Linked DNA regions of Homo sapiens. The protein of the gene in region 3 interacts with the protein of the main gene of each other region in a pairwise test. Each region holds a gene or a part of one and is shown on either strand. Other genes may lie near its edges.

The links. The genes of interacting proteins can lie anywhere in the genome.
Region 1: the proteins of ZNF655 (region 3) and DEUP1 interact in binary tests that used the Homo sapiens proteins (3 or more experiments, as listed by UniProt).
Region 2: the proteins of ZNF655 (region 3) and CCDC179 interact in binary tests that used the Homo sapiens proteins (3 or more experiments, as listed by UniProt).

The regions. Positions count from the first base shown.
Region 1 is NC_000011.10:93,368,240-93,376,322, forward strand, and holds part of DEUP1 (deuterosome assembly protein 1), read left to right. Parts: intron 1-1,833; coding exon 1,834-1,947; intron 1,948-2,798; coding exon 2,799-3,041; intron 3,042-8,083. UniProt on the Homo sapiens protein: Key structural component of the deuterosome, a structure that promotes de novo centriole amplification in multiciliated cells.
Region 2 is NC_000011.10:22,849,894-22,857,976, reverse strand, and holds part of CCDC179 (coiled-coil domain-containing protein 179), read left to right. Parts: coding exon 1-55; intron 56-1,324; coding exon of another isoform or gene 1,325-1,342; exon of another isoform or gene 1,343-1,362; intron 1,363-8,083.
Region 3 is NC_000007.14:99,568,207-99,576,289, forward strand, and holds part of ZNF655 (zinc finger protein 655), read left to right. Parts: intron 1-3,481; coding exon of another isoform or gene 3,482-3,586; intron 3,587-4,038; coding exon 4,039-5,378; 3' UTR 5,379-8,083. UniProt on the Homo sapiens protein: Probable transcription factor.

The DNA.
Region 1 (8,083 bases), on a different chromosome or scaffold from region 3:
GTCTTAGTTAGTTCAGGCTGCTATAACTAAATACCATAGACTGGGTGGCATAAACAACAGACATTTATTTTTCACAGTTCTGGAGGCTGGTAGTCCAAAATCAGAGTGCCTGTGTATTAATCCATTCTCACACTGCTATAATGAACTACCTGAGACTGGGTAATTTATGAAGAAAAGCGGTTTAATTGACTCACAGTTCCACAGGTTGTACAGGAGGCATGGTTGGGGAGGCCTTGGGAAACTTAGAATCATGGCAGAAGGCAAAGGGGAAGCAAGGCATGTCTTCACGTGGCCAACAGGAGAGAAAGAGAGAGAAAAGGGGGAAGTGCTACACACTTTCAAACAACCAGATCTCATGAGAACTCTATCAAGAGACAGCACTAGGGAGATGGTGCTAAACTGCTAGAAACCACCAGGCTGGGCGCAGTGGCTCACGCCTGTAATCCCAGCACTTTGGGAGGCTGAGGCAGGCAGATCACGAGGTCAGGAGTTTGAGACCAGCCTGACCAACATGGTGAAATGCTGTCTCTACTAAAAATACAAAAAATTATCCGGGTGTAGTGGCACGTGACTGTAATCCCAGCTACTCAGGAGGCTGAGACAGGAGGATCACTTGAACCTGGGAGGTAGAGGTTGCAGTGAGCCAAGATCGTGCCACTGCACTCCAGCCTGAGCAACAGAGCGAGACTCCATCTCAAAAAAAAGAAAAAAGAAAAAAAAGAAACCACCCCCGTGCCCACCAGCCACCCCCCAACACACACACACACTCGGGATCACAATTCAATGTGAGATTTGGATGGGGACACAGAGCCAAACCATATCCCCCAGCATAGTCAGATTCTGGTGAGGGCCCTTCTCCTGGTTCACAGATAGCTGTCTGCTCTTTGTATCCTCAGATGGCAGGGAGAAAGAAAGAGAGAGGAAACAAAATCTCTCATAGCTCTTCTTATAAGAGCACTCATCCCATTCATGAGAGCTTCACTCTCATGACTTAATTACCTCCCAAAGGCCCCATTTCATAATGCTGTCACTTTGGGGTTTAGGCTTGACATATGTATTTGTTGTGGGGGACACAAACATTCAGTCCTTAATAGTCACTAAATAAGTCCAAGCCCCACCCTCTAAAAAAACAAGAGGAGAAATTTGGCAACTGAGTGAATGAAGGAAAAAATATTTCGTGTCAAGAAATAGAAAGAAAGTAGTGGCAAATGCAAAAAAAAAAAAAAGTTGTTTGAAATTCCCTTATTAGTAATAAGTATTTGTTATAAGACAGACTTTTTACATTTTTAACAATAAGTGACAAATTCTGTATTTTCCTAGCAAAAATTAGAGATGGTAAAAAATCCAACATGAATGATTTGACACCTTTTCTTTTGTTTGTTTTCCCTAATAGGTAAAGAATGGATTTACGGCCGGGCGCGGTGGCTCACGCCTGTAATCCCAGCACTTTGGGAGGCCGAGGCGGGCGGATCACGAGGTCAGGAGATCGAGACCATCCTGGCTAACACGGTGAAACCCCGTCTCTACTAAAAATACAAAAAATTAGCCGGGCGAGGTGGCGGGCGCCTGTAGTCCCAGCTTCTCGGGAGGCTGAGGCAGGAGAATGGCGTGAACCCCAGGGGGCGGAGCCTGCAGTGAGCCGAGATTGCGCCACTGCACTCCAGCCTGGGCGACGGCGAGACTCCGTCTCAAAAAAAAAAAAAAAAAAAAAAAAAAGAATGGATTTACTTTTTTTTTCTCAGAATGAAGATGTACAAATGAAAGAAGCCTTATTTGCTGTACTTTAAAATGAATAACATTTTTAAATATGTTTGTCTCCCCACTTTTTAAAAGGAATTTAGAGCAAAGTCAAGAGAATGGGACAAGCAAGAGATATTATATCAGACTCATCTGATTTCTTTAGATGCTCAACAAAAATTATTATCTGAGAAGTGTAATCAGTTTCAGGTAAGTTATCTAATACTATTCTCTAAATCAAAAGCAGAAGTTAAATATTGGTATCTTTACCATTCACCAGTAATCTATTTACAAACAGACATGCCAACTAAGAAAAAACGAGAGTAGGTCCAAAGGTGGGTACAGTCACAAGTGCATAGAATATCTGTTAATGGTGAGTTTAGTCTACATGTCTCAAAGGATGGAGCTATTTAAAATTCCATTGTTATTGTGTCATTAAATAGCATATGTTTTTGCATGCCTACAGGCAAGGCACTCAAAGAATTTACGATTGCTTGCTTTACTTTGTATTTCCCTGGCTACTTGTAAGACTGAACATCTCCTCATATACTTTTTAGCCTATCTCAGGTCTTTCTGTGAATTGCCTATTCATAAACTTTGCCCATTTTTCTTTTGCATTGTTTGCCCTTTTCTTATTGATGTGTAGAAGTGTTTGTACACTAGGAATTATTAACTCTGTTACATGCATTGACAACTTTTCCCCTACAATCAAATTGTTTGTTTTTATTTATTTTTGGTTATAGACTTTTTTCAACCATTGTATAATTGAATTTTTTACACCTTCTAGATTTTTTTTCTTGCTTAGTATGGCTTTACTACCACTAACCTCCTTCTCTACTCTACATCTTTGCTCTGAGGTTATACAAATATATTTTCTCTATATGCCATCTGAAATTGAAATTTTAAAACAAATATAAGACTGAATTACAAAGACCCAACTTTCATTATGTAGTAACATATTTAAAGATATTCCTACTAATTCTTTTCTATCATTCTTGAACTTCATGTAAGCTTAAATATGACATTCTTCATTTGAGTTACACAGTTTTTATATTTTTCAGAAACAGGCACAAAGTTACCAAACTCAACTAAATGGTAAAAAACAGTGCTTAGAAGACAGCAGCTCTGAAATTCCTCGTTTGATATGTGACCCAGATCCCAATTGTGAAATCAATGAAAGAGATGAGTTCATTATTGAAAAACTGAAATCAGCTGTAAATGAGATAGCACTAAGCAGGAATAAATTACAAGATGAAAATCAGAAGCTCTTGCAAGAACTGAAAATGTACCAAAGACAGTGCCAGGTGAAGATTAATTTTTTTTCAACTAATATTGTCCATGACTTGTATAAATGGTAACACATATAGAGATTAGAATGATTAGAATGGTAGTTTTCTATTATTAATATATGTGAAGATTCCATTCATATTTCCTCTTAGTAATTCGCACTTGATGCGTAGATTCAATAATCCCATAAGTATGTTACCACACTTAGAGTGCACTTTGGTTCTGCGGTGGCATAATAATAATGTATTACCAGTGCAATATAATAGTGGTCACTTACGGACCTCTATGCCTTTAGCCATGTACTACCCTCTTCCCCCACTATTTTCTCTTACCCTGTGTTTCTTTGACTCAGAAGAATCCTGGGTTAAAGATACAGGAAATCGTGAAGGGTTCAACAATTTAGTAACCTCAGTGAGAGCTATGGAGATGACTCCAGTGATTTATCACTGGTAATCTTATCATAATCATTTATCAAACAGTAACCTAGAATTTATTTTTAGGTAACTTTCACATTGACAAATATGATTGATGGTTTAACAAGCATTAATTTTTTTTCTTAACTGAATAATGTTTTTTTCTTTTTTGTCTATTTCTTGCAACCTTTAGGAAGGTTATACAGCATTCATCAAAATTGGTCATTACCAATTTCTTTACAAAATATGTATTTCTTTTTTTTTTTTTTTGAGACGGAGTCTCGCTCTGTCGCCCAGGCTGGAGTGCAGTGGCGGGATCTCGGCTCACTGCAAGCTCCGCCTCCTGGGTTCACGCCATTCTCCTGCCTCAGCCTCCCAAGTAGCTGGGACTACAGGCGCCCGCCACTACGCCCGGCTAATTTTTTGTATTTTTAGTAGAGACGGGGTTTCACCGTTTTAGCCGGGATGGTCTCGATCTCCTGACCTCGTGATCCGCCCGCCTCGGCCTCCCAAAGTGCTGGGATTACAGGCGTGAGCCACCGCGCCCGGCCCAAAATATGTATTTCTTATTCATCAGTACTTGAGACGTTCTTTTATCTCCCATTTTAGGTTTTTTCTCCCACCTCCAAATATTCAGCCTGTTTCTATCACTTCCTCCATGACAGTTGGCCGATATCTTTTCCCCACTCTATTCCCTCGTCTACCTAGCATACATGATTGAGGTAAGGTCACTGCCTGAGAACTTCCATTTCATTTCCTTGAGATATACCACCCCAAGATCTTTTGCCACTTAAACTCCCAGGGTCATTTCTTAGTCCTCAGCCAACTCCTCATTCCCCCACCGTGCCACATCATATTTGGGATTATATAGGGAGTTAGTCCTTTAACTTCTTTCTCTGCCAGCATCTACTGTTCTATGTTCCTCTTTCCCCATGCTTGGTAAGGGACAGAATTCAAGGCTCCCAGTCTCTCCCATTCAGAGGCAATTGTAAGACATACATATTCCCCACTTCAAACTCCAGCTTTAAGGAGGGAGGTCTTATTCTAATACAAGTTAGAATACAGATGTAAACCAATAAAGAAAGCTAATCTACAAACACTAAATGCAGAGGAAGCCAGAAATAGTCTGGAAATAGCAAAGGTATTGATGGTGTTTTCTCTGGCTTCATTCTAATATAAATGAGGTTAGCACTCATTCATCTGCTCTAGAGGGTGCCTAGGGGCTTCTAAGTGCTTAGCATCAGCCCACCTCCGACTGTCTGAGCTGTGTTTGCATGACTGCGGGTCATGCAGTGATGGGGTCTTTCCTTCTCAGAGGCTGCTGCCTTTTGCTTCGCTAAGTATATGACAACTGGTCATGCTTTCTATTTAAAGGCAACCTATACTTACATTTTGCAGCTGTCTTTGTACTGCTGGAATCTGCATCAGAATCACATTCAGTAAATAAGAAAATTGTTGTTCTTGGTACTTCCCAAGTATTCTCCTCTAGGCTTGGGGTCATCCAGTGCCAACCAAAGCATTCTCTGCTTTGTCCCTTCTTCTTTTGGCAGGGGAACAGGTGGTGGTGGTTGGTTACATAAATAAGTTCTTTACTGGTGATTTCTGAGATTTTGATGCACCCATCACCTGAACAGTTTACACTGTACCCAATTTGTAGTATTTTATCCTTCACCACCCCCAACCCTTTCCCCTGAGTCCCCCAACATCATTCTTATGCCTTTGAAGCCTAATAGCTTAGCTCCTACTTATGAGTGAGAACGTAAGTAGGAGCAATAACAAAATGATGTTTCGTTTTCCATTCCTGAGTTACTTCACTTAGAATAATGGTCTTTAATTCCATCCAGGTTGCTGCAAATGCCATTATTTTGTTTCTTTCTATGGCTGTGTAGTATTCATATATATATACATATATATATACGTATATATATTTATATATGTATATATATACGTATATATATATATATATATATATATACGTATATATATGCCACATTTTCTTTATCCACTCATTGATTGATAGGCATTTGGGCTGGTTCTATATTTTTGCAATTGCAAATTGTGCTGCTATAAACATGCATGTGCAAGTATCTTTTTCATATAATGACTTCTTTTCCTCTGGGTAAATACCTAGTAGTTAGATTGCTGGATCAAATGGTAGATCTACCTTGAGTTCTTTAAGGAATCTCCACATTGTTTTCCTTAGTGGTTATACTAGTTTACATTCCCACCAGCAGGGTAAAAGTGTTACCTTTTCACCACAACCATACCAACATCTATTATTTTTTTGATTATGGCCAGTCTTGCAGGAGTAAGGTGGTATTGCATTGTGGTTTTGATTTGCATTTCCCTGATCATTAGTGACGTTGAGCATTTTTTCATGTGTTTGTTGGCCATTTGTATATCTTCTTTTGAGAATTGTCATTCATGTCCTTAGCCCACTTTTTGATGGGATTGTTTGTTTTTTTCTTCCTGATTTGTTTGATCTCCTTATCAATCCTGGATATTAGTCCTTTGTCAGATGCATAGTTTGTGAAGATTTTCTCCCACTCTGTGGGTTATGTGTTTACTGATTATTTATTTTGCTGTGTAGAAGCTCTTTAGTTTAATTAGGTCCCATCTATGTATCCTTGTTTTTGTTGCATTTGCTTTTGGGTTCTTGGTCATGAAGTCTTTGCCTATGCCAATGTCTAGAAGGGTTTTTCCAACGTTATCTTCTAGAATCTTTATGGTTTCAGGTCTTAGATTTAAGTCTTTGATCCATCTTTAGTTGATTTTTGTATAAAGTGAGAGATAAGGATCCAGCTTCATTCTTCTCCAATTATTCTTGCCAATTATTCCAACACCATTTGTTGAACAGGGTGTTCTTTCCAGACTTTATGTTTTTGTTTGCTTTGTCAAAGATCAGTTGGCTGTAAGTATTTGGGTTTATTTCTGGGTTCTCTATTGTGTTCCATTGGTTTCTGTGCCTATTTTTATACCAGTACCATGCTGTTTTGGTGACTATAGCATTATAGTATAGGGTATTTGGTAATTTGATGCCTCCAGATTTGTTCTTTTTGCTTAGTCATGCTTTAGCTATGCAGGCTCTTTTTTTGGTTCCATATGAATTCTAAGAATTTTTTTCTAATTCAGTGAAGAATTATGGTGGTATTTTGATGGGAATTTCATTGAATTTGAAGATTGATTTTGGGAGTATGGTCATTTTCACAATATTGATTCTACCCATCCATGAGCATGGGATGTGTTTCCATTTGTTTGTGTCATCTGTGATTTTTTTCAGCTGCGTTTTGTAGTTTTCCTTGTAGAGGTTTTTCACATCCTTGGGTAGGTATATTCCTAAGTATTTCTTTTTCTTTTCTTTTTTTTTTTTTTGCACTATTGTAAAAGAGGTTGAGTCTTTATTTGATTTTCAGCTTGGTCACTGTTGGTGTATAGCAGTGCCACTGATTTTTGTACATTGATTTTGTATCCTGAAACTTTACTGAATTCATTTGTCAGTTCTAGGAGCTTTTTGGATGAATCTTTAGAGTTTTCTAGGTATATGATCATGTCATCAGTCAACAGAGATAGTTTGACTTCTTTTTTACTGATTTGGATGCCCTTTATTTCTTTCTCTTGTCTGATTGCTCTGGCTAGGACTTTCAGTACTATGTTGAATAGAAGTGCTGAGAGTGGGCATCCTTGTCTTCTTCCAGTTCTCAGGGAGAATGCTTTCCCCATTCAATATAATGTTGGCTGTGGGTTTGTCGTAGATGGCTTTTATTACCTTAAGGTATGTCCTTTCCATGCCAATTTTGCTGAGGGTTTTAATCATAAAAGGATGCTGGATTTTGTCACATAATTTTTCTGTGTCTATTGAGATGATCATGTGATTTTTGTTTTTAATTCTGTTTATGAGGTGTATTGCATTTATTGACTTGCATATGTTAAACCATCCCTGCATCCCTCATTTGAAACCCACTTGATCATGGTGGATTATCTTTGTGATATGCTGTTGGATTCAGTTAGCTAGTATTTTGTCCAGGGTTTTTGCATCTATGTTCATCAGGGATATTGGTCTGTAGTTTTCTTTTTCTCTTATATCCTTTCCTGGTTTTGATATTAGGGTGATACTGGCTTCACAGAATGATTGAAGGTAGGATTCCCTCTTTCTCTATCTTTTAGAATAGTGTCAGTAAAATTGGTACCAATTCTTCTTTGAATGTTTGATAGAATTTAGCTGTGAATCTGTCTGGTCCTGGACTTTTTTGTTGGCAATTTTCATATTACTGTTTTGTTTTGTTTTGTTTTTTAAACAGTGTCTCACTCTGTTCCCCAGGCTGGAGTGCAGTGGTGCAGTTTCGGCTCACTGCAACCTCTGCCTCCCTGGTTCAAGCAATTCTTCTACCTCAGCCTCCTGAGAGCTGGGTTTACAGGTGCCTACCACCACACCCAGGTAATTTTTGTATTTTTTAGTGTATTTTTGTGTTGTTGGCCAGGCTGGTCTCGAACTCCTGAGCTCAAATGATCTGCCCGCCTTGGCCTGCCAAAGCGCTGGCATTACAGGCATGAGCCACTGCACCCGGCCTATATTACCATTTCAATCTCCCTGCTTGCTCTCGTTCTTTTCAGAGTTTCTGTTTCTTCTAGGAGTTTAATCTAGGAGG
Region 2 (8,083 bases), on a different chromosome or scaffold from region 3:
GAGACTGAATAAAAGGTTTTCAAGGCCTTCTCCTATTCCAGAACCAGGACTCCTAGTAAGTATAGAGGTTTCACTGAAATTAACAGATCATTAAATGCAACTGATATCATCATTTTAATTCATGTAATATTCACTATAAATTTTCTTTTTCCCTTTCTCTTTGAGAAATTTCTAATTTCAGTCTTAAAAGTCTTATCTCATCTATTATTTAAATATCCTCTGCTGTCATCTCCTGGAGGTGATATGGTTTAATGAAAAGAGGATTATCTTTGAAACCAGGTTGTTCTGGACTCCACTTCTTGTTTTGCCATATGTTAGATGACTACATAAGGTTAATCACTTAAATCTTTTGGCTATATATCTGAAAATTTATTGCCAAATTTAAGGTCACATTAGTTCTCTTATGTATTATCTCCTAGAAGTTTTGCAGTTGTGTATGTTACATTTAGGTTTATGATCCATAGCGAGTTAATGTTACTGAAAGGTGTCAGTGTCCAGATTATTATCATTATCATTTTCATGTAGATGTCAAGTTCTAGTACCATTTGTTGAAAAGACTATCTTTTCTCTATTGTATTGCCTTTGCTTCCTTATCAAAGATTTATTGACTATATATTTGTGTGGGTTTATTTCCGAGCTCGCTATTCTGTCTCGTTGAATCCTGTTTTTCATCAATACCATACTGTCTCGAAAACTATAGATTTACAATAAGTCTAGAAATCAGGTAGTGTCAGTCCTCTTCTGTTCTTTTCCCTCAATGTTGTGTTGGCTTTTCTGGAACTTTTCCCTTTCAATATAAAATTTAGAATCAGTTTGTTGAAATCTACAAAGTAACTTGCTAGAATTTTTATTGGGATTGTGCTGGATCCAAAGGATCAGTTTGGAAATAACTGATATCTTAACAATATTGAGTCTTCCTATAAATTAACATAGAATTTCTCCTATTTATTTAGATCATCTTTTTTACCTGAGTTTTATAATTTTCCTCATCCAGATTTTATACATATTTTCTTGGATTTATGCCTAAGTATTTTATTTTTTGTTGCTAATATAAATGGGAGGCTGTTTTTCACTTTGCATTCAAATTGTTCATTGCTGGCATAAAGGAAATCAATTGAATTTTCTGTATTAAACTTACATCCTCTAATCTTACTATAATTGTTTATTACTTCCAAGAGTTTTTTGTTTGTTTTTTATTGTTATTGTTGATTCTTTGAGATTTTCTACTTAGTCAGGTCGTCTGTGAACGAAGACACAGAACAATTTATTTCTTTCTTCTCAAACTGTATAACATTTATTTCCTTTTTTTGTCTTACTGCATTAGCTATGTCTTCCATTATGATGTTGAACAGAAGTGAGAAGGTACATTTTTGCCTTTTTCCTAATATTAACTGAAAAAAATCTGGTTTCTTGACAGTGACTATAATGTGAGGTTTAGGTATTTTAGAGATGTTCCTTATGAAGTGAAAGACATCCCTCTCTACACCTAGTACTGAGAGCTTTTATCATAAATGGGTACTGGATTTTGTCAAATTCTTATTATACATTGTTGATATGATCATATGATTTTTCTCCTTTAGCCTTTTGACGTGATGAATTTCATTAAATAATTTTAAGATGTTGAAACAGCCTTACATTCTTGGGATAAGTCTCAGATTGTGTATAATTATTTTTACACATGTTTGGATCAATTTGCTAATATTTTGTTGAGAATTTTTACATCTATGTTCATGAGAGGTATTGGTCTGTCATTTTCCTGTCTTTTAATATCTTTTTCTGGTTTTGGTATTAGGGTAATGCTCACCTTACAGAATGAGTCAAGAAGTATTCCCTCTGCTTCTATTTTCTGCAAGATATTGTAAAGAATTAGTAGTTTCTTTTTTAAATGTTTGGTAATCAGTGAAACCATCTGGGTTTAGTATTTTCTATTTTGAAAGATTGGTAATTATTAATTAATTTTTTAAATAGATAATAACCTTATTTAGATTATCTATGTCTTGTGTGAATTTTAGTAGATTGAATCCTTTTTAGATTTAGTCAGTTTTATCTAAGTTTTCAAGTTTATGAGCATAGAGCTATTGGTTATGTTCTTTTATTATTCTTTTAATGTTCATGGGATTGGCAGTTATGGTCTCTTATTTATGATGTTAGTAATTTGTGTCTTTTTTGGTTAGTCTGGCAAAAGTTTATCAATTTTACTAATATTTTCAAAGAATTATATTTTGGTTTCATTAATTTTCTCTATTGCATTCTGTTTTCAATTTCACAGATTTCTGCTCTAGTTTTTATGTCTTTTCTACTGCTTACTTTGGGTTTAATTTGCTCTTCTTTTTCTGGTTTCCTAAGGTGAAATCTTAGACTATTGAGTAAAGAGCTACTTCTTTTCTAATATATTAATTTAATGCTATAAAATTTCTCTAAGCATCACTTTCACTATATCCCATAAATTTTAATAAATCATATTTTCGTTTTCATTTTGTTCAGAATATTCTAAATTTCTTTTGAAACCTCTTCATCGATCTATGTGCTAGTTGTAAGTATGTTCTTAATTTCCAAATATTTGAGGAATTTCCAGTTATCTTTCTTGTTATTGGTTTCCAGTTTAACTCCACTGTGGTCTGAGAACACACTTTGTATGATTTCTATCCTTTTAAATTTGTTAAAGTATATTTTAATGACATTGAATGTGATCTGTCTTGGTGAATGTTCCATGTGTCTTGAGAAAACTGTATTCTGCTGTTATTAAAGTAACTATTAATGTCAATTAAATCCAACTGACTGATGGTGCTGTTCAGTTCAAATACATTCTTACAGATTTTCTGCCTGCTAGATCTGTCAATTACTGTTAGAAAGAATTGACATTTCCAGCTATGATAGCAGATTTGTCTATTTCTTCTTGCACTTTTATCAGTTTTTGCCTCACATATTTTGACGTTCTGTTGTTAGGAACAAACACATTAAGGATTACTATGTAATTTTACCCCATTATTATTATGTAATGTCCCTCTTTATCATTGATACTTTTTCTTGTTCTAAAGTCTTGTTTGTCTGAAATTAATAATGCAACTTCAGCTTTCTGTTGATTACTGTTAGCAATGTATATCTTTCTCCATCCCTTTGACACCATCTGCCCTTATAAAGTGAGTTTCTTGTAAACAACATACAGTTGTGTATTGTATTTGTATTAACTCTGACAGTCTTTGTCTTTAAGATCATTGACATCTGAAGTGATTATTGATATAGTCGAATTAGTATGTGCCTTATCTGTTACTGTCTTTTAGTTGTGGACTTGTTTTTACTTGCATTTATGCCATTTACTTTTCCATTCTTCTTCTGCATTCTCTAGTTTTGAGCAATTCATATTATTTAATATTCTCTCCTGTCTTAGCATGTCAATTATACTTGCTTTATTTTATTTTTTAACTTTTTCAGTGGTTTCCTTTGCATTTGAACTATACATTTATAATTTGTTCAAGTTCACTTTCAAATAACACTATACTACTTTATGGGTAATGCAGTTACCTTTTGACATAGTATTCCCATTCCCCTTTTCTTATTCTTCATAACATTATTGTCATTCACTTGTCCATAAAATATAAACAACACATACATTGTTGCAATTATTATTTTGAACAAATTATTATTTCTTAGATCAGTTAAGAATAAGACAGATAAAATATTTTATTTTACCTTCTTTTTTTTCATTTCTAATGCTCTTCCTTTAAGTACGTCCAAGTTTCTGACTTACAACATTTTCCTTTTCTCTGAAAACTTCTTAACTATTGCTGTGTGGGCAAGCCTACTAGTAACAAATATTCCTTCTGTTTTTGTTTGTCTGAAGAAGTCTTTTGTTCTCTTTCACTTTGGAAGGATACTTGCACATGATACAGAATCCTAGGTTTCTGCTCTTTTTCTTTGAACACTTTAAATATTTTACTCCATTCTCTTATTGCTTGCATGATTTCTGTAAAGAAATCCTATGTAATTGTTGTTATTCATGTTCCTATTTAAGTAAGCTATCCTACCACTTTCCCCCAGCTTCTTTCAAGATTTCATTTTTGTCTGATTCTTTTGCAGTTTAAATTTCATAAGTCTAGATGTAGACATTTATCTGGTGTTTATCCTGCTTTGTGTCTTATGAATTTTCTGAATCTGTGGTTTGTTGTCTATCATTAACTTTAGAAGGTTCACATCTATTATTATGTCAATATTTATTCTGTTTCTCCTCCTTCTCTTCCTTCCTTTCTTCTTCCTTCTTCTTTCTTCTTCTTCCTCTTCCTCTTCATCCTTTTCCTCTTCCTCTCCTCCTTCCTTCTTTTTTTTTCCAATTGTACATATTTATACTTTTTGTAATTGTTGCTCAGTTCTTGAATAATGTATTCTATATTTTTATACTTTTTTCTCCTTACCGTTAGTTTGGAAAGTTTCTATTTACATATCTTTAAGCTAATTAGTTTTTTTCCTCTGAGTTCAGTGTATTAATGAGCCCATCAATGTCATGCTTCATTTCCATTAAAATATTTTAGACTTTTAGTGTTAGTTTGATTTCTTCTTAGATTTTCCATTTTGCCTTGTATTACCCATCTTGTCTTGCATCATGTCCACTTCTTCTATTAGAACTTAGCATATTTGTCATAATTATTGTAAGTTCCAAGTCTGATAATTCTAAAATATCTGCTATTATCTGAGTCTGGATCTGATTGGTGCTTACTTTTTCACTTCAGATTGTTTCTGCCCTTTAGTGTGTCTTGTAGTTCTTTATTGAAAGCTGGATATGATGTATTGGGTAACAGAAACTAAGGAAGACAAGCTTTTAGTGTAGGTTTTATGTTTATCTGACTAAGATTTAGGCTGCATTTTCTGTTTATTTGTAACTGTGATATCAGAGGGTAAAATTTCCCCTGATTCAGTTTTGTCTTCCTCCTTATTTTTGGTCTTGCTAGGGACTCTTTCTTAAATAATATCTGAAGCTTGCAATTTTTTAAAGCTGGAATCCTCTGATATATACAGGAGACTAATTGATGTGTTGGTAAGTTGTAGGGGAAGAAGGGTTCCATAGCCTATGATTAGGATTCAGTCTTTAAGTGAGTCTGTATCTATAACTGCCCAGTGGGTTCATTTTGCACACTACCCAGATAGAGCCAATTTATCAAGACAGGGGAATTGCAATAGAGAAAGAGTTTAATACACATAGAGCCAGCTAAACAGGACACTGGAGCTTTATTATTACTCCAATCAGCCTCTCTGAAAATTTGGAGGCTAAGCTTTTTCAAGGATAGTTTTGTGGGCAGGGGCCTATGGGAATGGGCTGCTGGTTGGTTGGGAATGAAATCACAGGGGTATGGAAAATGCCTCCTCATGAGGTGAGTCCACTTCTGGGTGGGGACCACAGGACTAGTTGAGCTAAGAGTCTTGGGTCCATGTGGGGCTGCCTGGTCATCAGAAATGCAAAAGCCTGAAAAGATATGTGAAAAGGTCAATCCTAGTTTCTACAATAGTGAATAGGGGAAGTTGCAAATCTTGTGACCTCCAGAATAATGGCTGGTAATCACTTGACTATGCCTGCATCTTAGCAGAATTCAGGCCACTCTCATCCTCCTAACCTTGTGGCCTTTCATTAGTTTTACAAAGGTGGTTTAATTTTGGGGAAGGGCTATTATTAAACTATAAACTAAATTTCTCCTATAGTTAGCTTTGTCCATGCCCTGGAATAACCAAGGGCAGCTGGGAGGTGAAAGGCAAGATGGAGTTGGTTAGAACAGAAGTCTTTACTGTCATAATTTTTCACTGCAAGAGCAGTTTCCTATCCCTGGGATGTAAATTTCACAACTTCTTCTTTGCTATCATCCCTGTTAGGTGAGATAGGAAAGCTATAGGGAACAGGAGTTGTGTATTTCCTTTCCCCTAAGTCACTTAGAATTTGGTAAAACCCAATTTATTTAGGCTCTGCTAAAATAGTTTCTCTTGAGAGCATGCTCTGGTAAAGAGAACGGAGAGCTCTGACATATTTTTAAATGATTACTTCTCCCCTTTCACTACTAGAAGCAAAAAAAAAGATTGTTCTCTGATCCTTACAGTGAGATCTAGTGAGGCTCCTGGAGGTAAAATTTAGGAAACTATGGGAGCTTCCCTAAGACTGTCCTCTCTACACCCAGAGTTTTTAATTAAAGCTCATGCATACTGAGCCTCCAGCCATTCATCAGATAAAGTTGACATGTTCCCACTGGTACTGGCCTTAGCAGAAGGATTTTGTTCCTGGCAAGCTCTGATTCTCCACATCCACTTGTCTGTCTCTCTGGTTTTCAGGGCAGCAGCTTGCCCTGTGCCCTCACTTCTCTGATGAATGTAACAAGATTAATTGCTTTTCAGATTGTTCTGCTTTTTTCTTATTGTAAGGAAGGAAGGAACAATTTGCAAGCTCTTTATATGTCAGGCTGGAAAGCTCCACTTAAATTTCTTTGATCAAAATTGTTTAACTGGCCACCCCTAGCTGCAAATAAATTTAGAGATGTGAAAAATTAAACTGACTTCCTTGCTGCCCTGAAGAGAATAGAGGTACCATTAGCATGGAAGAAAGTACTTTCCTTCCTTTTTCAGACTGTGAGGATTATCTTTCTGTAACTTCCTCCTTTCTGAGATTTTGGAGTAAATTTATATTATGAGTAAAAGTTCAACCCATTGGCTTTGTTTACCATTTGTTTTTGCATAATGAAGGGAACTTACACATTGCCATACAGAAACCCAGGACCATCAACTATACACAGTTATTGTTTTGCCTTAACTATCAACAAAGCTCCTCCCTTGCTGATATACCAGTGTTTATAACCCCAACCCCATAATCTTTGTCTCTCTTTTAAGCATTAAAATATGCCTATGCACAGGAGAATGGCGTGAACCTGGGAGGTGGAGCTTGCAGTGAGCCAAGATAGCACCACTGCACTCCAGCCTGGGTGACAGAGCAAGACTCCATCTCAGCAAAAAAAAAAAAAAAAAAAAAAAATATATATATATATATATATATATATATATATATATAGCCTATGCAACATATATTTTCCCCTTCCAAGTTATCTCTTAGTATAACGTATCATAATTTGAGATATAGGAAAGAAAAGAGAATTATTCCTGGGTCTACCTTTCTATAGTGTAAGACAATTGCCACCATTTCTGAACCCTGTACCTCTTGATTCATTTACACACAGTTATTTTGGTTACTCTTTCTATCCCTTTGTCATTTCAATATCTAGTACCATCAATCTTGTTTTCTTCCATGACTTGGCCCTTAACAAACCATCTAAGGTTTTTAATTTCAAAAGCTCCCCTTTTTAACTAAAATTAGAACTACCATTTGATCCAGCAATCCCACTACTGGGTATCTACCCAGAGGGAAATAAGTTGTTATATTAAAAAGACACTTACACATGCATGTTTATAGAAGTGCAGTTTGCAATTGCAAAAATGTGGAATGAGGCTAAATGCACATCAAACAACCAGTGGATAAAGAAAATCTGGTATATGGATAAAATAGAACAGCCATAAAATGGAACAAAATAATGGCATTCGCAGCAACCTGGATGAAGTTGGAGACCATTATTCTAAGTGAAGAAACTCAGGAATGGAAAATAAAATATCATGTGTTCTTGATACAGGAGTTAAGAAGAAATTACTTAGGCAGATAGTAAGGGTATGGAAGTCCTTGTTAAGGTTTTCCCTTTAATGAAAAGCAGCTCCAAATCATTTTCCTCCTAACAAAGGGCAGCCTATAAAATCGAGCTGCAGACATAGATGCTGGCCATTGTACCAATCATGTTCAAAATGACAGCTCCATCTTCCCTTCTCTGCCAGCCACGTGTATAGTAAGAAGCAGAGAAGATGGCAATGGCCAAGGGGTAAGTTCATCTGCATAAGAAGATTAGAGTGAGGTGGCCAGCCTTCCCTGCATGCTATGTAAACATCATACCTGAGTGAACCAATCTGTGAGCCCTATGTAAATCAGACGCCTCCTCAAGCCTGACTATAAAATCTGTCGCCTCCACCACCGGCCCGTCTTTCCTCTCAGGAATCTCCTCTCTCTCACTAGAGA
Region 3 (8,083 bases):
ATAGTGGAGTTTCCTCAAATTTATTATTGTTTGGACTATTGTCTAGGGATTTGGATTTTTTTTTTTTTTTTTGAAATGGAGTCTCCCAGGCTGGAGTGTAGTGGCGTGATCTCGGCTCACTGCAACCTCTGCCTCCCGGGTTCAAGCGATTCTCCTTCCTCAGTCTCTCGAGTGGCTGGGACTACAGGCACCCGCCATCACGCCCGGCTAATTTTTGGTATTTTTAGTAGAGACAGGGTTTCACCGTGTTAGCCAGGATGGTCTCGATCTCCTGACCTTGTGATCTGCCTGCCTTGGCCTCCCAAAGTGCTAGGATTACAGGCGCGAGCCACCGTGCCTGGCTGGGGTTTGGATTTTTATTGTAAAGGATTTCCATTTCCTTGATAATAAATCATCTTTTAGATCCCTTTTAATTTTTAATTTTAATTTTTTGTAGAGATGGAGTCTCACTATGTTCCCCAAGCAGGTCTCAAATTCCTGAGCTCATGAGATCCTCCTGCCTTGACCTCTCAAAGTGCTGGGATTACACGTGTGAGCCACCATGCCTGGTCCATAGATCCTCTTGATTCGTTTGTTGGTTGATTGACTGACTGACTGACTGACAGGATCTCACTCTCACCCAGGCTGGAGTACAGTGGTGTGATCTTGGCTCTCTGCAGCCTCGGCCTTCTGAGCTCAAGCGATCATTCTGCCTCTGCCTCCCAAGTAGCTGGGACTACAGGCGTGTGCCACCATGCCTGGCTAATTTTTGTATTTTTTGTAGAGGTGGGATCTCACTATGTTGCCCAGGCTGGTCTCAGACTCTTGGGCTGAAGTGATCTGTCCGTCATGGCCTCCCAAAGTGCTGGGATTACAGGTGTGAGCTTCTGTGCCCAGCCATAGATCCCTTTTAATTAACACTTCTGCGACTCCAATTATTTAGGATCCTGGTTCACCGTATGTTATTCTAATCACTTTTTCTCTGTTGTTTGTATTTACCTTTTACTTCACTGTCAATATTTTATAAATCATATTAGAAAACTCAAGATTTAAATAAAATCAAAAAGTTTTAATACATTAATTTTAAACAGGAAAAATGTAAATAAAGCAAGTGCATATTTTGAAAGCAAAGTTTTGAGTTAAATTTAGGAAATAGGCATTTAGGCTAGTGCCAAGAAAACTTACACGTTCTTTCTGTGTGTAATTTGGAGGAAGGGATGGATTTTGTTCACAGTCATTATTTATTTTTTTTCAGGGCTTGTTAGGAGGCAAAATCATAATTTTTTTTTTACTAGCAGATTGTTTAAAGGCTAGGTTCTGAAATAAGACTGTGCAGGTTTGAAAACTAAGCATTACCAGTTATTGTAACCTTGGGCAAGCTACTTAACCACTCTGAATCTTAGTATTCCCATCTGTAAAATGGCTATAATAATAGTTTCTACGTTTTAAATTTATGGTATTAAATGAGTGAAAACCTAGAGAGCTCTTGGCATGGTACTTTGCACCTACCAAGTACTTAGTAAAACTTAATAATATTTTGATGGTACTGATGATACCCTGTTCTCTCTTCTAAACTGTGATATTGTATCTTTACCTGCTAGGCATTTTCTCTTTTAAAAAAAATTATTTCAGTAGTTTTGGGGGCGTACAAGTGGTTTTTTGTTACATGGATGAATTCTAATACATAGTGGTGAATTCTGAGATTTTAGTGCACCTGTCACTGGAATAGTGTACATTGTACCTAATATATAGTTTTTTATCCCTTGTCCCTTCTCCCACCCTTTCCCTTCTTAGTCTCTGAAGTCCATTTTATCACTCTGTATGCCTTTGCGTACTCATCTGCTGGGCATTTTCTCTTATACCTTCGTACATTACATTAAACACACATCTAAAATCAAACCCCTCATCCCACATGAAGACCACCTTTTTTGTTGTGCATATGTGTTTTAAGTGTAGATATGGAGTAAGCAGCCAGAATTTATTTCAGTTACCAAATATCGACAGACACTTTAAATATCTCAGAGTTAAAAGTTGCAAATTATGTTATTGGAATTCTGAGAACAATATTGATTGCTGCTTCATGTTACACTAACTTTACTTTTTAAACTTCTGAAACGATTTCATTTGACAGGGTGGACCTTAATTAAATATATGTCCACAAGGAGAGTTGACTCTAAATGTCCCACAGGATTTCAGAAACACAGTAAATACCTTTCTTCTATCTATTCTGATCTCCTTGCTCATAGGCTCTCACATGGAATCTTTGGGGCAGCTGTCAGTTCTTCATATTTTCCAGCCCCAATGCCCTTTTTATAAAATTGGGTAGCTGTTAATACATTGATACTTGGGCGCACAGAGTTGGCACTCAATAAGTAGCCGTTAAGTAAATTAATCAAAAGAATTGCAAGATACAAGATACCTGGTCCCTTCTATCAAAGAGTTTATAAATCAAGTATGAATGACAATACCTGAAACCACTTAAAAAAAAATCTATGTAAACACCGTTATATGTGACATGTCAGGATAAGAGGGAACAACTAATAAATTTTGTACACATTCAGTAAATGGAGAGAAAGGTTTTTGGAGATGAGGGGCTTGAGCCAGACCTTGTATGTGTGCTATTAGAAGCTTTCTGGGCTGGACACATTTAAAAACTGCCCTTTGATACTAATAGTATTAAAATTCTGTCTCCTTGGAAGCAGACTGCCTGTTGCTTTAGCTTTAAAAGAGATTTATATCCAAGCATTGCATTATGCAAGCCATAGAAAGACTGTTTTATGTGAAGATGCACTGATTGCACTTCCCTCTCTATATTTTATTGTAGTTAGTTGTTTAGAGCTGTCTCTGTGTAGAGTGTGAGGTCCTTGAGGGAAGGGACCTTCTTGGCCTCTTATCCCCTGCATACTTTGCATAGAGGAGGCACTTCATAAATGTTTGTTGAATAAATGCTACACTCCTAATGGGTAAGAATGTGTCATATTACTCTTTGTTTTCTTATGTGTACTGAAACAAATTGTTTCTTGAGATTGGTCCTTAGAATATTTATTCAGTTTTCACTGATTCTCTTGCTACAGGTTAGCTAACCATGCAGCAGGTGCTTGAGTTTCACCTTTCTCCAGTCCAGCAGAATTACATTTTGATGACCTCCATTTTGATACTTGTAGACCAGATCTAATCCGAAGATTAATCTTTAGGTAACAGATGGAGAGTGATAATGATAACTTCTGTGAAGACAAACCCATGCACACATTCTGTTGTCTGAATAATATTTAAATGAATCCTTCTGCTCCCAAGTCATCAACTTGCCCCTTAACACACATCCCTCTAGAGCACAAATCTGAGCTCCTTGTAGATCTTTGCCCTCTTCACTCTCCAGACCTTCCTAATTAATGTCTTCTCAGAATCGACCTTCTGTCTCTCTTAATCATTAGTTAAAAGAAAAAGTGGCAGATGTAGGACCTGGGGATACATTGCCACATCCCATTTCCTTCTCTATGAGCAGGATTTCCAATTTCCAAGCCTGATGGGATCTCCCAGCTGGAACAGGATCTACAGGTCTTTGATCTGGAAACTAAGACTAGAGAAGTCTTAAGAGATGACTGCTCAGGTGAGTAAGGCAGAATCAGATAGAATTAGTAGGGAAGTAAAGTTCAATTGTTGAGCCAAGTTGTAGCTGCTTTGGCACTCAGAATGAAGAGCTCTGTGTGTGTCCTAGCATGGAGAGTTCCTTCCTTTTCCCTTCAGTTAGGTTGACCCTTTCCATTTGTTTAGTATCCGTGCACATGTCGTACTAGACCCCAATCAAGTTGCTTATCTAAAATTCTTTCAGCTGTTTCCCTATTATTTCCTTACTCTGCTGAACATGTCCGCTGTTTTACCTCACTGCTCCTGTTTATGCCCTTAACTTCTGCTGTTGAGATTTTGTGCCTGTTTTTCAGAGTAAATAAACTTTTCTTGTCCTTGTAGATACTACATTGTTTAGTTTTCTCATCTGAGTTTTCTTTTCCTAAGCACAGGGTACAGATTACATTTGCATTTTCTATTTATATATTGTATCAGATGGAGAGACCAGAGAAGAGAACAAGCTGTTGATTCCTAAGCAGAAAATTTCGGAAGAAGTGCATTCATACAAAGTGAGAGTAGGAAGACTCAAACACGATATTACCCAAGTTCCTGAGACTAGAGAAGTGTATAAGTCTGAGGACAGATTAGAAAGACTTCAGGAAATTCTAAGGAAATTTCTGTACCTGGAGAGAGAGTTTAGGCAAATAACAATCAGCAAGGAAACCTTCACCAGTGAGAAGAACAATGAATGTCATGAACCCGAAAAAAGCTTCAGTCTGGACTCTACTATTGATGCAGATCAGAGAGTTCTTAGAATACAGAATACCGATGACAATGATAAGTATGACATGAGCTTCAACCAGAATTCAGCCTCTGGTAAACATGAACACTTAAATCTAACAGAGGATTTTCAGAGTAGTGAATGTAAGGAAAGCTTAATGGATCTCTCCCACCTTAATAAATGGGAGAGCATCCCTAACACTGAGAAATCCTATAAATGTGATGTATGTGGGAAAATTTTCCATCAGAGCTCAGCCCTTACTAGACATCAGAGAATCCATACTAGAGAGAAGCCCTACAAATGTAAAGAATGTGAAAAGTCTTTCAGTCAGAGCTCAAGTCTTAGTCGACATAAAAGAATACACACTAGAGAAAAACCTTACAAATGTGAAGCATCTGATAAATCCTGTGAAGCGTCTGATAAATCCTGTAGTCCAAGCTCAGGCATAATTCAGCATAAGAAAATTCACACCAGAGCCAAATCTTACAAATGTAGCAGTTGTGAAAGAGTCTTCAGTCGTAGTGTCCACCTTACTCAACATCAGAAAATTCACAAAGAGATGCCCTGTAAGTGTACTGTATGTGGCAGTGACTTCTGCCATACTTCATACCTACTTGAACATCAGAGGGTCCATCATGAAGAGAAAGCCTATGAGTATGATGAATATGGGTTGGCCTATATTAAACAACAAGGAATTCATTTCAGAGAAAAGCCCTATACGTGTAGTGAATGTGGAAAAGACTTCAGATTGAATTCACATCTTATTCAGCATCAAAGAATTCACACAGGAGAGAAAGCACATGAATGTAATGAATGTGGAAAAGCTTTCAGTCAAACCTCATGCCTTATTCAGCATCACAAAATGCATAGGAAAGAGAAATCGTATGAATGTAATGAGTATGAGGGCAGTTTCAGTCATAGCTCAGATCTTATCCTGCAACAAGAAGTCCTCACCAGACAGAAAGCCTTTGATTGTGATGTATGGGAAAAGAACTCCAGTCAGAGAGCACATCTAGTTCAACATCAGAGCATTCATACCAAAGAGAACTCATGAATGTAATGAAGATGGGAAGATATTTATCAAATTCAGGCTTCATTCAGCATCTGAGAGTTCACACCAGGGAGAAATCATGTATGTACTGCATGTGGTAAAGCCTTCAGTCATAGCTCAGCCATTGCTCAGCATCAGATAATTCACACCAGAGAGAAACCCTCTGAATGTGACGAATGAAGAAAAGGTATTAGTGTTAAACTCTTAATCGACTCCTGCAAATCTATACCAGTGAGAAATCTTACAAATGTATTGAATGTGGCAAATTTTTCATGCTATTAGTATTTTCATACCTTAGTCACATTTGGAGAATTCACATGGGAATAAAATTCCATTGCTGCAATGAATGTGAAAAAGCCATCAGTCAAAGAAACTACCTTGTTTAGTATCAAATTCACGCCATGCAAAAAGATTATAAATGTAATAAGCATGTATGTGTGTGAGGAGATTCAGTCATAACCCAACGCTCATTCAACATCAAAGAATTTATACCTAAGAGAACTTATTTGGGTGTAGTAAATGGCAGATCTTTCAATAGGAGTTTAACTAGTCTTTGTCATATCAGAATATCCATAGTAGACAAGAATTTGATGTAACGCAAATGGAAAAACTCGACACCACATTTCAGGCTTTACCCAACATCGAAATAATGGAGAGAAAATTGTTGATTATTTGTTTATGAAATTGTTAATACATAGTCCCAATCTTTTTCATTGCACAAAAATCTAGGGTTGACTTGGTAAATGCAGTGACATTTTCTCATGGAGTTCCTTTATTTAATATGTATTCTAAGTAGGTACGTTTATTTTTACTTTTTTATTATAATTTTGATATTAAAAAGAACAGAGATGGGGTCTTGCTTTGTTGCCCAGGCTGGTCTTGAACTCCTGGCCTCAAGCGATCCTCCCACCTGTCCTCCCAAAGTGCTGGGGTTACAGGCGTGTGTCACTGTGCTGGGCCTATTTTATTTATAGAACTCATTTAAGCTGTTTTTATTTTAATATGCCCTATAAACATTTTTATATTTTTTGAAATTGGTTCTTAGTGTTCACAACTTCCATAAGATACTGCTAATGCACCAGTATTAAAACACATCGACGTAAGTAGCTCATTTAGCTTTTTCTGCTGTTCTTGGCCCAAGTTCTTTCCAAAACCAACTCTTAGGCCTGCTCTTTACTAGGGATCTTATGTCGTATTGCTTTACAGCCACAACACTTGGATTCCTGTTGATTAACTTCTCCATTCTCTTAAGCACCTTTAGAAGATTTAGAAGTTTCCTAGTTTTAAGTGTTTCACCAGCAAGTATTCCATACCTACTTGATGTTGCTGGTCTGGTGTCTTATTTCCTAAAGTGAAGCATCTTTTTTTAAAAAAGAATTTGATTGACAATATATCCAGTCCAATATAAGTATGAAGGATTCTCTCTCCTGAGATTGTAGCAGGCAGCCAAACATTTTCAAATGATGCCCAAGGTTTTAGCTGTCTTGTGTGCATCCACAGTCTGCGAAGAAGACATGATAAGGACATCAGGGAGCCAACAAGACTCCTAATAGCCTCACTACATTCATCCAGTGCCTATTCTGCATGCCTAAGCTTAGAGTTCTTTTATATACCTCTACGGCCAGCAAAATGCTCAGGTCTGCTCTTGGTAGGGTAAACATAAAGAAGATACACAGGCCGGGCATGGTGGCTCACACCTGTAATCCCAGCACTTTGGGAGGCTGAGGCGGATGGATCACGAGGTCAGGCAGTCGAGACCATCCTGGCCAACATGGTGAAACCCCGTCTCTACTAAAAATACAAAAGTTAGCCGGGTGTGGTGGCACGCGCCTGTAATCCCAGCTACTCAGGAGGCTGAGGCAGGAGAACTGCTTGAACCTGGGAGGCGGAGGTTGCAGTGAGCCGAGATTGCACCACTGCACTCCAGCCTGGGCGACAGAGCAGGACTCTCTCTCAAAAAAACACAAAAAAACAAAAACAAAAAACCATACACACACACACACACACACAAATCAGCATCATAAGGGAATGTAGCCTTCCAACAGAGATGATGCTGTTCGTATGTTAATCTCAGAGACAGTATTTCAAGAGAGTGGCAGGTCTGTTCCTGGTAAAATTTTAACCATTAGGATTGCAGATAAATGTTTGAATTCTGCTCCTCTCTCATCAATCCAGGACAGTATTTGAAGTGTGAGGGCTTTGTGTATAGTTGTTTATCCATTACCACATTTTTGTATTTTAATAGTCTACAGGCTATATAAAAGAACATGGCTTTTTGACTGATAAAAGTGATTACAGATGTTGGCTCAAGTTCAGGGCCACCATCATATACCTAACAAGAGTTCATGATTCTTTAGGTAATGTCAAAACATTTTGTATTTTTCCATCTTAAGCTTTATAACATTTTGTGAGTAAGACAAATGTTATTTAAAATTCTTGTTGTCAGTCCAGCAATTGAGGCTTTCATAGTTCAGTGTTATAATATTCAGTAGGGACCCTCAACAAATATATAAAAATATGTTGCTCACTCTATAATCCTCCTATGGCTAACCTCTAGGATAGTTCTGCCACTATATTTTACTTCTTTGCCATCAGCAAGAGTAGGATTTCATCAAGGCAAGGTAGGAATCTAAATGAAATTGATATATAAATGAATTGATCTAAATGTAAAAGCAAATGAAAAATGCATGTGTTTTTTCCTGTCAAAC